Linked DNA regions of Homo sapiens: region 1 is linked to region 2. Evidence: fine-mapped expression QTL. A gene starts in region 2. The other region holds a variant in brackets. All regions are shown on one strand. Distances are between the middles of the regions.

What was found.
Region 1: its variant is fine-mapped to the expression of CCDC85B in whole blood (INTERVAL, PIP above 0.99).

Annotation. Positions count from the first base shown.
Region 1 is chr11:65,804,461-65,812,783 of GRCh38, reverse strand. All of the region lies in intron 3 of LOC124902693, which reads left to right. Among named protein-coding and RNA genes, the nearest start is that of OVOL1-AS1, 18 kb to the right of the region's middle. The variant A/G (reference allele first, on the strand shown) is at 3,452.
Region 2 is chr11:65,887,053-65,895,375 of GRCh38, reverse strand. It overlaps CCDC85B (coiled-coil domain containing 85B), which reads right to left and starts at 4,703. Exons shown (of 1, transcript NM_006848.3): 1 at 3,741-4,703. The coding sequence starts at 4,592. The coding sequence ends at 3,984. It overlaps FIBP (FGF1 intracellular binding protein), which reads left to right and starts at 6,905. Exons shown (of 10, transcript NM_004214.5): 1 at 6,905-7,042; 2 at 7,244-7,442; 3 at 7,650-7,776. The coding sequence starts at 6,958. FOSL1 (FOS like 1, AP-1 transcription factor subunit) reads left to right here. Exons shown (of 4, transcript NM_005438.5): 3 at 1,255-1,362; 4 at 2,080-3,327. The coding sequence ends at 2,490. RefSeq lists enhancers at 1,042-1,151, 1,254-1,758, 3,043-3,202, 3,243-3,292, 6,935-7,004 and silencers at 4,433-4,912, 6,675-6,814.

The sequences.
Region 1 (8,323 bases), 83 kb after region 2:
TGTGCCCACCACCACACCCGACTAAGTTTTCGTATTTTTAGCAGAGACGGGATTTCATCATATTGGTCAGGCTGGTGTCGAACTCCTGACGTCAGCTGATCCACCTGCCTTGGCCTCCCAAAGTGCTGGGATCGCAGGTGTGAGCCACCGCACCCAGCCCCCATTCACTTTTGTTTTAGGAAATGAGAAAGCTTCTGCCTTTTTTCTTTCCTTCCTTCCTTGGATGTTAGTTAAGATCAGTGAGGTAATGGTGATAAAGTACTTTGAATTACCTCAAGGAGAGTGCAGCCCAACTTGTTATTATTTACCTAGGTCAGTTCACAAACCCCCACGATCTAGGGTTCCTGTCTCCTGCCCTGGGGATGGTGCCTGGGAGAAAGGAGATGTCACAGACCCAGTCCCACAGGGCGCTGTTGGCTGGAGTTGGTCATTCCTTACTTTGACATCAACAGGCTTATCTCTAGAAATAGGCTAAATGGTAGCTCAGGCGCCGGTGTTGCCTCATCCCGCAAACTCCCAGGGAGGCTGCCTACTTCCAGCCCCTGTTCTGGGAACTAATGATAGGTGGGATGAAAAGACTGTTTCCTCTGATGCGCTTTTATGAGTTGTTTTCGAAGATGAGGTGGCAAGGACATGGTTAACCCGCTCCCTTGTGCAGGGAGACATCAGAATGACAGGGCACGGGGAATCTCCCCAACCCGTTCCCAGGAGAGCTCTTGCCGAGGACGGCCCAGCTGTTAGCCAGAAATCAAGGCAGCCTCAAGCCCTGTAACCCAGATATCAGTGGGCTTTTTCGGCTGACGGTGCTGTGGCCTGCGGCAGGCGGCAGTGTGGGTAGAGGACAGCTGTGGCTGAGGCCGGCAGCTCTTTCCACACGACTTCTTGGGTAATGGCTCTTCTTAAGCCTGTGATATTTAGGGATTGTCAAACTTCCCTTTCATCCTGAGCCACCTTCCCTCATGGGTAGCAGAGGAGTTGGATTTCTTTCTTTTCTTTTCTTTTTTCTTTTTCTTTTTCGACAGAGTCTTGCTCTGTCGCCCAGGCTGGAGGGCAGTGGTATGATCTCTGCTCACTGCAACCTCCACCTCCCGGGTTCAAGTGATTCTTCTGCCTCAGCCGCCCGAGTAGCTGGGATTACAGGCACGCACCACCACGCCCAGCTAATTTTTGTATTTTTAGTAGAGATGGGGTTTCACCATGTTGGTCAGGCTGGTCTCGAACTCTTGACCTCAGGTGATCCACCTGCCTTGGCCTCCCAAAGTGCTGGGATTACAGGCGTGAGCCACCAAGCCCGGTCAAGGAGTTGGATTTCTTATGACAAGAGTATTATGGCTGTGTGTCCCAGAGGAGGCACTGTGTCCTCATGAGGGTCCTTCACTGAAAGGAGAGCCTCGAGGACAAAGGAATCTTCTAGAGACGACGTTGGGAGGGAGGAGTGGAGTTTGCAGGTGACTCTAGAGGACCCCAAAGTCCAGTGGGAGCTCATTACCTCCTCGATAGGAGGAGCCTGTTGTTGTATGAGTGAGGAAAGGTGGCAGAACCGAGGCTGAGAGAGGCTGCGAAGATGCAGCAGCAGTGCTGAGGCCTGAGAGGAGGACACGTTCTATTACGCCAATTAATTCTACCCACCGAAAGGGCACATCACATTTTTGGGGTTGCCAAAAGCCGTTCTTAGCAGTAAAAAGTCTGTGAACTGCTGCACTGGGGATTGGCAAAGGCTTGGTAGCCAGCGCATTGAAGAGGGAGGGACAGCAAGCCTCACACCGGGAGTGGATCCTTCCTGTGTTTCTGCCACCACAGTTTGCCAGTTTGATGCCAAGGGACTCTTACTGTTTATGTGTGCATGTTTGTGCTGTTAGATTATCTTCTGAGCAATTTCAAGTTTTAAGAATATGTTGGTGAAGTCAACAATGAACAATTCCAGGAGACTTGGTTCCACCCGGGCCCTGCTCAGGAAAGATGAGGAGCCCCTCCCAACCCCACCCCTGCCTGTCCACATGGCCCTTCCTCCCCATCATCCACCATGGGGCCCTCCTGTGCCACAACATGGCTCTCATCCTTCTGTCTGGACACTTGCCCTGCCTCCTGGAGAGCCAGGCTCCTGCCCTGGCGGGCATGTGAGTGTGCATGTGTGTGAGTGTGCATGTGTGAGTGTGCGTGTTTGCGAGTGTGCACGTGAGTGCACGTCTGAACGTGTGTGGGAGTGTATACGTGAGTGCACGTCTCAACGTGTGTGCGAGTGTGCATGTGTGTGCGAGTGTGTACGCGTGAGTGCACGTGTGCATGTGTGTGCAATTGTGCGTGTGTCTACGTGTGTGCATGTGAGTGCATGTGTGTGTGATTGCGTGTGTGTATAATTGTGCACGTATGTGAGTGTGCATGTGTGTACAATTGTGTGCGTGTGTGTGAGTGTGCATGTGTGTGCATGTGGCACGGAGGGGGAAGAAGAGAGTTCTCCTCTGTGGTGATCGCCACCATTCAGTTGAAGGGTTTAAGCTGAGCCAAGATGAAGCAAGAGTGACACCAAGTGCCAAGAACAAGTGCTTGCTGTGGTATCAGGTGTGCTCTCTCCTCAAATCAGAGGAGCAGAGAGAAGCTCAGTTCCAGTCTGCAGTGTTCACCCCTGTGAGAGGGTGCCGACCCATCCAGAGGTGGCCAGCCCCCTCCAGAGGTGGCTCAGTGCTGGCATGCCACTCTGCCCATTTGGACAAGGGGATGGCCTCTCTGGGAATTGGATGCGGAACCGAAGCTTTGAATAGATTTAAAAAATAAAATCCAAGGTGGGATGTTTTGTTGGCTAGAACATGATGCACAGACCCAGATTGCCGTTCTGGCCCTATTGCTGTCCTTCAGCCCCATTCGGAGAATGACCAGACCCCGAGGCCACAGTAGGACAAAGAAGAAGACTGACCCAGTTCTCTGTTTCCTGCTGCCATGCCCGGGCCTCTGCTGCCAGAAGTCTTCCCCATGAAGCCATAGGTGGGGGACTAAAAGGCATATTCCTGTGGGGTGACCCCGAGAGAGACTGGGCATGGTTTCCACCGAGGCACTGTTGGGGGCAGAGAATTCTTTGGTTGCCGGAGAGGACCACCTGGTGCAGACCAGACCTGCAGCTGCGGCTTCAGGGTAGGAGCATGGCCGCCTTGGTGTCGCCATCTGGCCAGTCCTTGTTCCTACAGTTCCACTCCCAGCCGTGTCCTCAGCTTGTACCCACTTGTTTTTTTCCTTCATGGAAGCTAAGGAGGGGACTGGGTTTGTTTGTCCAGATGCCACCAGTTGGATGACCGTTGCGGGTACAGGAGTGTCTTCACCACGCAGTGCCAGGCCAGGTCCCACCTCACATCTCTATTCCTCATCTGGGAATGCTGGCATCAGCAGGTTGATTCAAAACTAGGAGGTGTTGGGAAACCCCTTGGGCTGGAGATTTCGAACTGAGATTCAGATGAGAAAA[A/G]ACATAGTGGGTGGGGTTCTGAGGCAGGAAGGAGACAGCAAAAGCTCCTGTCCTGACGCTCCGCTCGATAGCGGGGATCAACAGAGCGGCCTGGCATGGTTGGGGGCAGCTGCGCTGGCTGAACCCAGGTGCAAGGCTGGCCCTGGACGGCCTCTCCCACCTCTGGACACAGAGCCGCCCCGTGCCTCTCCATTCACCAGGCAAAACCACACCTGGAGTGGCGCGTTCAGTCTGGGGCATGTTGGCACCAGCAGGTGTGGATAAATCCAAGGGCTCCTTCGGAGGGAGGGCAGGGGAGGAGGGCTGGCAGGAGTATGGGGAGAAAAGCTGTTTGAAAAGATTGTAAAAGGCTGTGGGAGAATTCAGAGAGGGGGCGAGTGATGAAGGGAGGACCACGCAGCTCAGGAGCCACAGCCTGGGTGGCCTGGGCGGCAAGGGCAGCCCCCATTCTGCTGTTGAGTGGCTGTCTTGCCGTCTGCACTCCCTCGTCATACAGTCCTCCCTGTGCGTTAGCTCAGGACAGCCTGGCATCGGTGGCTCCTGGTGGCAGGTGCCTGTGACATGAAGAGCACAGAGGAAGACGCTGGCTAGATCCAGAGGCAGAGAGAGGAGGACATGAGGAGAAGGTGAGGGAAACTGAGGAACAAGGAGAGGAAGAGCAATTAAAATGATTCCTTGAAAGAAAAGGAGGTAAAACAGAAAACGTGGCGAGGGGTATCCTAGAAGGAGCAGAAAAGGAAGGAAAAAAAGGGTGAACATTGTCTTTCATTTGAAGGACTTGGAGTGGCACAGTCAAGAACGAGTCTCCAAACACAGTCAGTACTCAGAAAGCTCATCATTGGATTTGTAAATCCATTTCATCTGGGTGGACTGAAGAACGTGGTACCCTCTGAGGATGTCAGGGCCCATATTGTGGGAAAGTCAAGAGTGGCGCCGCAACAAACTAGCTAATCAGTTATGAACACGAGGGGCTCATGATTCATGAGCCTGCCCATCTATCTCGTGCAGGGTGGAGACCCATCTAACCGGAACCACCACCCAGCCTCTCCCAGCCTCCTTAGATGACAAGCTCTGGCATCCTCGGTCCACCCAACTCAGCCCCCAAGCATTTCGCCAAAACATCAGTAAGCAGGTATAGGTGAAGGAGGTCACAGGTGTCTCCATTTTGTGCCGTTTTCTCTCCTTCCCAGTGCTCAGCACACGACTAACCAGGGGTTCTCATCAGGGGCCGTATATTCACTCCTGAAAGGGTAGTCAGCAGGTCACCAAACACCTTCCTCTGAACTCAGAATAAGTTTATTTTTACTTAATTTTTTAAATTAAAATAAATTTTTTTAGGCCGGGTGCAGTGGCTCACGCCTGTAATCCCAGCACTTTGAGAGGCTGAGGTGGGCGGATCACAAGGTCAGGAGTTCAAGACCAGCCTGGCCAATATGGTGAAACCCCATCTCTAAAAAATACAAAAAAAATTACCCGGGCGTGGTTGCGCATGCCTGTAATCCCAGCTACTCGGGAGGCTGAGGCAGGAGAGTTGCTTGAACCTGGGAGGCAGAGGTTGCAGTGAACCGAGATCCTGCCACTGCACTCCAGCCTGGGCAACAGTGTAGGACTCTCTCACAAAAAAAAAAAAAAAAAAAAAAAAAAAAAATTCTGGGACAGAGTCTCGTTCTGTTCACACAGGCTGGAATGCTGTGGTGTCATCATAGCTCACTATAACCTCAAACTCCTGGGCTCGAGTGATCCTCCCACCTCAGCCTCCCAAGTAGCTGGGACTATAGGCCCTGCCACTGTATCTGGCTAATTTTTAAATATTTTGCAGAAACGGGATCTCACAATGTTGGTCTGAAACTCCTGAGCTCATGTGATCCTCCTGCCTCAGCCTCCCGAGTTGCTGGGATTACAGGCATGAGCCGCCGTGCCCAGCTAGTTTATTTTTATATTCTGTATTACTGTGGACCGGAAAATCCAAGAGTTTGCCTGTACCCTATGGGAAAATTGTCTCTCAGCTGCAACGTGCCCAGCGTTCTCAGCAGTCAGGGCAAATTCAACTACAGCAGCCACCGCCCATCTTACCGAAGCTAAACCAGACATGGATGTTATTATCTGCTGCATCCAGCATTTGTTTAGAGCTTTCTGCTTCACAAAGCAACTCATTATCTTAATCTTCACCATCATCCTACATTGCTCTTACTTCCACTTTATGAACAGTCAGTCTCAGAAAGCTAAGGCATCTTCCTCAAAGCAGCTGTAGGATTCAAACTGTGTGTCCGGGGACTCCAGATTCTTTGTGCTTTCTACACATTTAGATTTCATGGTAACATCAAAAATCAGGATTCCTGGATCTGGAGCAGTTTATTCCCTCGGCCTTCCTCCCACCCATTGCCATCCCAGCCCATTTCTATAACCATCAAATGGGCAATGTTTTTTTTTTTTTTTTTTTTTTGAGACATGGTCTCACTCTGTCACCCAGGCTGGAGGGCGGTGGCGCAATCTCGGCTCACTGCAACCTCTGCCTCCCAGGTTCAAGCGATTCTCCTGCCTCAGCCTCCTGAGTAGCTGGGATTACAGGCGCCCGCCAGCAAGCCCTGCTAATTTTTTTGTATTTTTAGTAGAGATGGGGTTTCGCCATGTTGGCCAGGCTGGTCTCAAACTCCTGACCTCAAGTGATCCACCCGCTTCGGCCTCCCAAAGTGCTGGGATTACAGGCGTGAGCCACCGCGGCCGGCCTAAATTGGCAAGAATTTTCACTGTTCAATGAAGAACATCCTTTTGCAGCCAATTATTCCAACATTGCCTTCCTGAAGGACTCTTTCAAAATCATCAAGAAGATTTCACTACAAAAGCAATATGGGAATATTGTAGAAAAAAGTACGAAATATAGAAAAAAGAAAATAAAAGTCATAATTCTGCCATTGAACAAGAATTTAAGATTTTTACTTCCATGATTTTTACTACAGACATATGGACTGACTTACGTTTATAAAAATGACAAGGGTGCCTACCCCATAATACTGTTTTGGAACCTGCTTTTAAATTTAATATATTGTAAGCATTTTCCTGAAATATTTTTTGCCATCATATTTAAGAGATACACATATTTCATTATAGTTTTTCTTTTTTTGAGACAGGGTCTCACTCTGTTGTCCAGGCTACAGGGTACAGTGGTGTGATCTCAGCTCACTGCAATCTCCGTCTCCCAGGTTCAAGCAATTCTTGTGCCTCAGTTTCCCAAGTAGCTGGGACTACAGGAGCACGCTACCACGCCCGGCTAATTTTTTTTGTATTTTTTGGTAGAGACGGGGTTTCACCATGTTGGCCAGGCTGATCTTGAACTCCTGACCTCAAGTAATCCGCCTGCCTTGCCCTCCCAGAGTGCTGGGATTACAAGTGTGAGCCACCACACACAGCTTACTTAATTATAATTTTTAATGTACTCAGGTTAAATATTTAGATTGTTTCTACTTTTTCAATATTATAACTAGTTTTATGATAGGCTTTTTTTTTTTTTTTTTTTTTGAGCTAGAGTCTTGCTCTGTCGCCCAGGCTGGAGTGCAATGGCATGATCTCGGCTCATTGCAACCTCTGCCTCCCAGGTTCAAGCTAGTCTCCTGCCTCAGCCTCCTGAGTAGTTGGGATTGTAGGCACGTGCCACCACACCTGGCTAATTTTTGTATTTTTAGTAGAGACGGGGTTTCACCACATTGGTCAGGCTGGTCTTAAACTCCTGACCTGGTGATCTGCCCACCTCAGCCTCCCAAAGTGCTGGGATTACAGGCACAAGCCACCACACCCAGCCTCTTTTTTTTTTTTTTTTTTTTTTTTAGAGATGGAGGTCTCACCATGTTGGCCAGGTTGGTCTTGAACTCCTGGCCTCAAGCAATCCGCCCGCCTCAGCCTCCCAAAGTGCTAGGATTACAAGCGTGAGCCACCACACTGGGCCTTGATAGACTTGCTTATAGGTAACAGATACCTAATTTTCATTTTTATTCCTTGGATTATGAATGAAGTTGAATTTTTTTCATATAATTGTTATCATTTGAAGCTGTTTTATGAATAATCCATACTGTTTGCCAGCTTCCCATGGTACATATTTTATTTTTTATATTTTTATTTTTTGCTCTGTTGCCCAGGTGGAGTGCAGTGGTGCAATCTTGGCTCACTGCAACATGCACCTCTTGGGTTCAAGCAATTCTCATGCCTTAGCCTCCTGAGTAGCTGGGATTAGAGGTGCGCACCACCATGCCCGGCTAATTTTTTGTGTTTTTTTTTTTTTAGTAGAGACAGGGTTTTGCCATGTTGCCCAGGCTGGTCTCGAACTCCTGGGCTCAAGTGATCTGCCCACCTCTGCCTCCCAAAGTGCTGGGATTACAGGCGTGAGCCACCACGCCTGCCTGCCTGCCTGCCTCCCTCCCTCCCTCCCTCCTTCCTTCCTTCCTTCCTTCGTCCTTTCTCTCTCTCTTTCTTTTCTTTCTTTCTTGAGACGGAGTTTCGCTCTCATTGCCCAGGCTGGAGCGCAATGGTGCGATCTCGGCTCACCGCAACCTCTGCCTCCCGGGTTAAGGCAATTCTCCTGCCTTAGCCTCCCAAATAGCTGGGATTACAGGCATATGCCACCACGCCCAGCTAATTTTTTGTATTTTTAGTAGAGATGAGGTTTCTCCATGTTGGTCAGTCTGGTCTCGAACTCCCAACCTCAGGTGATCCACCCTCCTTGGCCTCCCAAAGTGCTGGGATTACAGGTGTAAGCCACTGCGCCCGGCCACCTTTTATTTTTCTTACAGATATGTAGGAACTCTTTATATTAAGGCTGAAATTTCAAACCCCAAACAAATCAAACTTCTTAGAGGGCTCCTCGCCTCCTTAGGGAACGCT
Region 2 (8,323 bases):
AAGGAAGGTGGATCATGAGGTCAGGAGATCGAGACCATCCTGGCTAACATGATGAAACCGTGTCTCTACTAAAAAATACAAAAAATTAGCTGGGCGTGGTGGAAGGCACCTGTAGTCGCAGCTACTCGGGAGGCTGAGGCAGGAGAATGGCGTGAACCCCGGAGGCGGAGCTTGCAGTGAGCCGAGATGGCACCACTGCACTCCAGCCTGGGCAACAGAGTGAGACTCCGTCTCAAAAAAAAAAAAAAAAAAGAATCTATGTTTTTTTAAAAAAGAGGCCAGCTGTGGTGACTCCCCCTGGTAATCCAAACATTCTAGGAGGCCAGTGCAGGAGGATCCCTTGAGCCCATGAGTTCCAGACCAGCCTGGGCAACACAGTGAGACCCCGTCACTACACAAAAAAAAAAAAGAAAAAAAAAGGCCGAGCACAGTGGCTCATGCCTGTAATCCCAGCACTTTGGGAGGCTGAGGAGGGTGGATCACCTGAGGTTAAGAGTTCAAGACCAGCCTGGCCAACATGGTGAAACCTCGTCTCTACTAAAAATACAAAAATTAGCCAGGTGTGGTGGTACATGCCTGTAATCCCAGCTACTTGGGAGGCTGAGGCACGAGAATCACTTGAACCCAGTAGGTGGAGGTTGCAGTGAGCCAAGATTGGGCCAATGCACTCCAGCCTGGGAAAGAGTGAGACTCTGTCTAAAAAAAATAAAATAAAATAAAATAAAATCTTTGCATGTTCTCAGTGAAAAACAAGAATCTACGTAAAGTACTTGGCTGGCACATAGTAGTTTTCCAATAAATTGCAACTTAATCAGCAGCACTCATTAGCCCCTCCTAGTGCTTACAGCTCATGGAAGAGGAGACTTGGTTGTCCACAGATCCAGAAGGATGAGGGTCCTGCAAAGAGGGTGCTGAGAAGGAAAGGTCACTTCTGGCTGGGGAATAAGACGGCTTCCTGGAGGCAGGAGCATCTTAGTTGAGTCCTGGGAGATGAGGAGGGTTAGGGTTTGCGGAGGGGGAGGGCATTATGGGAGAGGAATGTGCACTAAAGCTAGGTGCGAGGAGGAAATTTTACCAATCAAAGCAGACAGCGCCTCAGTGCAGGGAACTGGTTGGGTGCAGTGATCCCTAAATCACCGGCTGAGGGGGCCCTGCCATGACCTCTGCCAGGGTCCTACCACTGGGCCACCATGAGGGGCGAGTTCCAGGCAGCCAGTAGCCCAGGGTCCTCCTCACTGCGGGTCTCACCCCCAGATCAGCCCGGAGGAAGAGGAGCGCCGCCGAGTAAGGCGCGAGCGGAACAAGCTGGCTGCGGCCAAGTGCAGGAACCGGAGGAAGGAACTGACCGACTTCCTGCAGGCGGTGAGCACCAGCCCTGGTCCACCGAGCTCAGAGGGACCCTGTCTCCCAGAGCCCCCAGAGCCCCAGTATATGTAGCCCCCTCCTCACCATCCTAGCTCCTTGTCTGAGGGGCAGTCCTTCTGGGAAAATGATGAGGAAAAATTGATTAGAAACTGGCTGCAGCATGTCTCACTCACAGCAGAGCTGAAGCTCAGCCAGCAATCTCCTTTTTTTTTTGAGACAGAGTCTCGCTCTGTCACCCAGGCTGGAGTGCAGTGATGAGATCTCGGCTCATGGCTCACTGTGACATCTGTCTCCCAGGCTCCAGCAATTCTTATGCCTCAGCCTGCTGAGTACCTGGGGCTACAGGCGCCTGCCTCCCTACCCGACTAATTTTTGTATTTTTAGTAGAGACGGGGTTTCGCCAAGTTAGCCAGGCTGGTCTCAAACTCCTGGTCTCAAGTGATCCGCCCGCCTCAGCCTCCCAAAGTGCTGGGATTACAGGCCGGAGTCACTGCCTGGTGCCAGCAATCTCCTAAAACGTCTGGGCCTGATGGGAGTTGTGCCCATTTTCTCCCAGGGGCTTATGGGAGTTGTAGTCCAGACTTGCTGGGGACTCTCCACTGCCCCCCCTCTCCCCCCGCCCAACCCCAGCTCCTCAGAACCCTGAGTCCAAACGTCTGCGGCTCTGGGGTATTCAGCCCTCACCTTTCTGACTCCTCTCCTGATCTTCTACAGGAGACTGACAAACTGGAAGATGAGAAATCTGGGCTGCAGCGAGAGATTGAGGAGCTGCAGAAGCAGAAGGAGCGCCTAGAGCTGGTGCTGGAAGCCCACCGACCCATCTGCAAAATCCCGGAAGGAGCCAAGGAGGGGGACACAGGCAGTACCAGTGGCACCAGCAGCCCACCAGCCCCCTGCCGCCCTGTACCTTGTATCTCCCTTTCCCCAGGGCCTGTGCTTGAACCTGAGGCACTGCACACCCCCACACTCATGACCACACCCTCCCTAACTCCTTTCACCCCCAGCCTGGTCTTCACCTACCCCAGCACTCCTGAGCCTTGTGCCTCAGCTCATCGCAAGAGTAGCAGCAGCAGCGGAGACCCATCCTCTGACCCCCTTGGCTCTCCAACCCTCCTCGCTTTGTGAGGCGCCTGAGCCCTACTCCCTGCAGATGCCACCCTAGCCAATGTCTCCTCCCCTTCCCCCACCGGTCCAGCTGGCCTGGACAGTATCCCACATCCAACTCCAGCAACTTCTTCTCCATCCCTCTAATGAGACTGACCATATTGTGCTTCACAGTAGAGCCAGCTTGGGGCCACCAAAGCTGCCCACTGTTTCTCTTGAGCTGGCCTCTCTAGCACAATTTGCACTAAATCAGAGACAAAATATTTCCCATTTGTGCCAGAGGAATCCTGGCAGCCCAGAGACTTTGTAGATCCTTAGAGGTCCTCTGGAGCCCTAACCCCTTCCAGATCACTGCCACACTCTCCATCACCCTCTTCCTGTGATCCACCCAACCCTATCTCCTGACAGAAGGTGCCACTTTACCCACCTAGAACACTAACTCACCAGCCCCACTGCCAGCAGCAGCAGGTGATTGGACCAGGCCATTCTGCCGCCCCCTCCTGAACCGCACAGCTCAGGAGGCGCCCTTGGCTTCTGTGATGAGCTGATCTGCGGATCTCAGCTTTGAGAAGCCTTCAGCTCCAGGGAATCCAAGCCTCCACAGCGAGGGCAGCTGCTATTTATTTTCCTAAAGAGAGTATTTTTATACAAACCTACCAAAATGGAATAAAAGGCTTGAAGCTGTGGCCTGAGTGCCTCACTGGACCCAGAGGCCAATGGGAGAGTATTTGGAGCCCTAGGTCCCAGCCTTAGCTCTACAGACTCACTGCATGACCTTGGACAAATTCTTTGATATTTTTGGACTTTGTCTTATCTGACAAGTGGGGCTACATCCGCTCGGCCTCATCTCCGGGACTGAGGGGAGACAGTCCTCTGGGGTAAAAGCGAAGAGGCTTACCGCCCCTCTCCCCGTGGGGGCCCACAGTGCTGCTGCGTGTGCCACGGAGGGGCGCTGTTATGCCCCCTTCCAGCCTCAGAGGAGGCGGCCGAGTGGTTCTAGGCCCCCAGCACCTGCTTCCTGCCCCATTGTCTTGGACAGGAAGGAGCCGGGAAGGGAGCTGGAGCCACTTCAGGGGCTGGATTAAGGCCGGTCCCGGCGCCCGATGGGGGAAGTCTGGTTTACCACTGCCCCGCATCCCACCCCAGGCTCGAAGTAATGGGGGAATCATTAGTTCTGCAGTCCTTCTGGATGGGAATTGTACCCTGTATCAGCACCCCACCCTCGCCCCAACCCCGGCGAGTACCAAACAGACGCTGCCCAGGCCGTGGGCTCCGCTTCCGTCCGGGTTTATTACCCCCAATCCAACCCCCAGCAAGTCCCTCCGCTCCAGCCTTCAGTCCCCCTGCTGCCCTGCCAGCAAGAGCGAGGGGCCCTTCTTGGTGTCAGGATTTCTTAGTCCATGCCAGCGGCCCCTCCTGCGCAGCCAGGACGGCGTCCAGGTCCCGAGGTCCACAGCGGTCCCGGGGCTCGGGGAGCAATCCGGGCGGGCGTCGGCGTGGAGGAAGCAGTGCCTTCAATCATCGGGGGAACAGGCCAGGGGCAACTGATCCGGACTGCCCACGCTGCCAGTGCTGGAGCTTCCATCGCCTAGGTCGCGGGGCCCGCACGGGGGCAAGGCAAGCTCGGGTGCTGGCCCGGCTCCTGATCCCCCGGCGCCGCTGGGGCCGCCGCGGGGGCCCCATTCTTCGCCCAGCGCCAGGCAGAGCTCCTTAAGCGCTAGGTTCTCCCGCAGCAGCTCCTCCTGGCGGCCCTCCAGCTCGGCCAGCTTCTGCCAACAGCCGCCCAGGTCCTCGCGCACGGCCCGGGATGCTTGGGTCCCGAAGAGCTGCCACTGGCGTGCGGCGCGCCGCCCGCGCTGGCGCTCCGAGTCCAGGAAGCAGCAGAGGTCGCGCAGCTCACGGTTCTCTGCCTGCAGACGCCGGTTGAGCTGCTTGAGCTCGCGGATCTCGCCCAGGTGGCCCTGCAGCTGCCGATTCACCTCCTGCATGAGGCGGCCGCGCTGCACCAGTGCCGCCAGGCGCGCCGCCTCCTCCCGCCGCAGGCGCCGCACTAGCTCTTCCTTGCCTAGCGCCGCCATCTCCTCGTCCGTCAGCTCCTCCAGGCCGCCTGCCTCGGCCTCCATGGCTGGTCAGGCCTCTGGAGCATCGCCCGCCCGCCGCCGCGGCCCAGGAGCCCCACGTCGGGCCCGGCGCCACTCAGGCTCGGGCTCCGGCTCCGCACGCGGCAGGCAGTGGCCGAGGCAGCGTAGGCTGCAGCAGCTACCCGGGCTGGGCACGCGGCGGGGCGCGCGCCGGGGCGGGGCCGCATGTCGTTATGGAAGGACAGCCAATCCGGTGAAACGTCCCCGGAAAGGGGCGGGGCCTGAGCTCAGGGGCCGCCCCCCTCGTTCCCCACCCACTCCGGGTGTTACTGATCCTCGATGTCAAGGAACCCGCGCGTCATCGCCCTCCACATCGGTCTCAACCCGAAACTAGGAGCTTCGAACCTCCAAGTACCGGATCGCCCCAAGCTTGAGCCTAGGCCTCTCGGCTCTTCTGAGAAACAAGATTCAGGCGTCCGCCCCTGACTCCTGCCCATCCCCCACAGAAGTCAGATGGACCGCTCTCCAGTCCCTCTTTACCTTTGATCAAATTCGGAAGTCTCGGCCCACTAAGGATCGCTCCTGGTTCCTCGGAACCCTGAGTCCAAACGTCCTAGCTCACCAATAGACTACCCTCCCTCCCAGGGAGCGTTTCCTGCCTGGGGGGAGGAACATACAGGATTCGTTTGTTCAATAAACGTTTTTTATGTGCAAGGCCCATGCAGAAATAAATTTAACCAAAATACCGATTCCATCCTCAAGGAGGTCGCAGTCTGTCCGGGAAGTCAAGCTGTGTTAAGCAAGAAATAAATCCGGGAGGAGTATGGTCTGAGGGTCCTTAAGAGGGTTCCCAAAAGAGATGCTATCCAAGAGGCTCTGGTAGATCCATAGGACTTTGCCAAGTAAAGAGCTATTTCAGGGAGAGAGAATAACATAGTGAAAGACACTGGTGCCCGAAAGAGCCTAGCTGCTTTAGGAACAATGAGGATAGCTTGGTTTTTGAAAAGCAGATGTGTCGAGAAAATGCTAAGAGAGAGAGAGCGAGGCTTCAAAGGTAGGTAAAAGCCAGATTCTTAAGAACTTCCAGTACCAGGTTGGAGCATTTCCAAAGGCCACTAAGGATGTTAAGCAAGAGAGTAACATTTGTAAGGATGTTAAGCAAGGGAGTAACATTTTAAAATATGCCTTTAACTGGCCAAGATGGTGAAACCCCGTTTCTACTAAAAATACAAAAATTAGCCGGGCGTGGTGGGAGGAGCCTGTAATCTCAGCTACTCGGGAGGCTGAGGCAGAGAACTGCTTGAACCCGGGAGGCGGAGGTTGCAGTGAGCCGAGATCGCGCCACTGCACTCCAGCCTGGGCGACAGAGCGAGACGCTGTCTCGAAAAAAAAAATGTATTTAAAAAGATTGGGCTGATCTGTGTGGGCCGGACCCTGCGGGGAGGGGACATAAACAGGGAGATTAGTAACGGTGTCAAAGAGCAAGAGCAAGGAGAGCTAAGCAGAAAGACGGCTGGGGCAGCATCAGTGGGGGTGGAGAGGACAAACAGATACTAGAAATATTCGGGAGGCAAATCAGCCGAACTGAATGTGGGGAGAGAGGAGTCTGGAAGAACGCCCAGGTTTCTCGTATGAGAACTGGTGGATGTTAGGGCTGTCACTGAGATAGGGACGCAGGAAAGAAACAAATGGGGAGAGGCAGAGGTCTGTCTAGAATATGTTGAGCTTTTGAGGGGCTTACGGGAAGAGTGTGGATAGACTTGGCCGATAGGCGGCCCCTCCGGATGTGGACTTCCAGGCAGAGCTCGGAGGGGCAGAATTAGAGACGTCAGTAGCTCGTGGGGCTGGGGGTGGGATTAAAACCAAGGTGGGAGCAGGTGCCCCAAACCCAGGAGAGGTGCTCATGCGCAGGATGGACAAACCAGTCTCCAGCAAGAGCCCGAGGAAGTCGGGTCATACCCCATTTTTGCGGAGATTTAGGATAGAGCCCTGTGAAACCCCTAAGTTTAGGATACAGGTCAAACTTAGGAGGTCCCGAAGAGGGCAGAGAAGGTGGGAGAAAAGCCAGGAGGAAGTGAGGGGAGAAGTTACGGGGACCGAGGAGACGAAGAGGAGGCACTCCCTTCGTGCTCCTGCAGACGGCCGGGGAGGGAGACAGGACGCAGGAGCCCGGGACTCCCCCTCCCGGCGGGAGGAAGCGGTGCTCCTCCGCGCAGGCCTCCCCCTCTCTTCCCTCGCCGCTCCCGCCCCGTCCCCTCCCCGACTGGCTGTGTCCCGGAAGTGGTCATAAGCTGGGTCCCGATGCCGCGAGCGGAATCTCGGCGCTCCCGGAAGTGGCCTGAAGGCGGCGCGCCAGTCCCGAGCAGTGCTCGCTCCTGCTCGGGGCGCTGCGGCCCCGGGCGTCGCCATGACCAGTGAGCTGGACATCTTCGTGGGGAACACGACCCTTATCGACGAGGACGTGTATCGCCTCTGGCTCGATGGTTACTCGGGTCCGTGAGGGGCGTGTGGGGAAGCCAGTCGGCGGAGCGGTTGTGTTGAATGGGAGAGGGGGCGGGGCTAAGACTTGGGCATCCTTTAGGGAAGTGGGCGAGCGCCTGGGAATAAGAGGTGTTATAGGGGTCTGGGATGGAAACCCTTAAGGGCCTCTGGCGTCGGCGGGGCGGGGCCTGATGCTAGCGTCCGCTTTCCAGTGACCGACGCGGTGGCCCTGCGGGTGCGCTCGGGAATCCTGGAGCAGACTGGCGCCACGGCAGCGGTGCTGCAGAGCGACACCATGGACCATTACCGCACCTTCCACATGCTCGAGCGGCTGCTGCATGCGCCGCCCAAGCTACTGCACCAGCTCATCTTCCAGATTCCGCCCTCCCGGCAGGCACTACTCATCGAGAGGTGCTCACCCTCTGGGATGGTGGAGACATCAACCAGTCTGACTGTATACCCATTTTGCCGGCTGAAACAGGCCCAGGGAGGGATGGGATTTACCCAGCCATCAGAAAGTTGAGAGTGGAAGGGGTCAGACCTAGGCCCTGCTAGGCCCCGCCAGACTCCCTTTCCTGTCTTTTATGGAGGGTCAATGGTGTTCTCTGACTCCACAAGGTACTATGCCTTTGATGAGGCCTTTGTTCGGGAGGTGCTGGGCAAGAAGCTGTCCAAAGGCACCAAGAAAGACCTGGATGACATCAGCACCAAAACAGGCATCACCCTCAAGAGCTGCCGGAGACAGGTATGCACTGCATCCACACGGACACAGCATCCCATCTACACTTCACTCCCTCCCTTTGGCCACTGGCCCAGTTCCAGCCTCTGATTGTGGCAGCAGCTTCATACCTAGTCTTCTCCTCCCTTCCCCTTTCCCCTCCTTTTTTTTTTTTTTTTTCGAGATGGAGTCTTGCTCTGTGGCCCAAGCTGGAGTGCAGTGGCGCGACCTCAGCTCACTGCAACCTCCGCCTCCTGGGTTCAGGTAATTCTTGTGCCTCAGCCTCTGCAGTAGCTGAGATTACAGGCGCCCGCTCCCACACCCAGCTAATTTTTGTATTGTTAGTAGAGACAGGGTTTCACCATGTTGGCCAGGCTTGTCTTGAACTCCTGGCCTCAAGTGATCATCCGCCTCGGCCTCCCAAAGTGCTGACATTACAGGCGTGAGCCACCGTGCCTGGCTCCCTGTTGTGCCTTCCAAGCTATCCTGTACTGTATGGCCAGAGTGACCTTTCAGAATGACCTGAAATTTTATCAGACCCCTGATAAACTTTCATTGGCTCCCACTGCCTCCT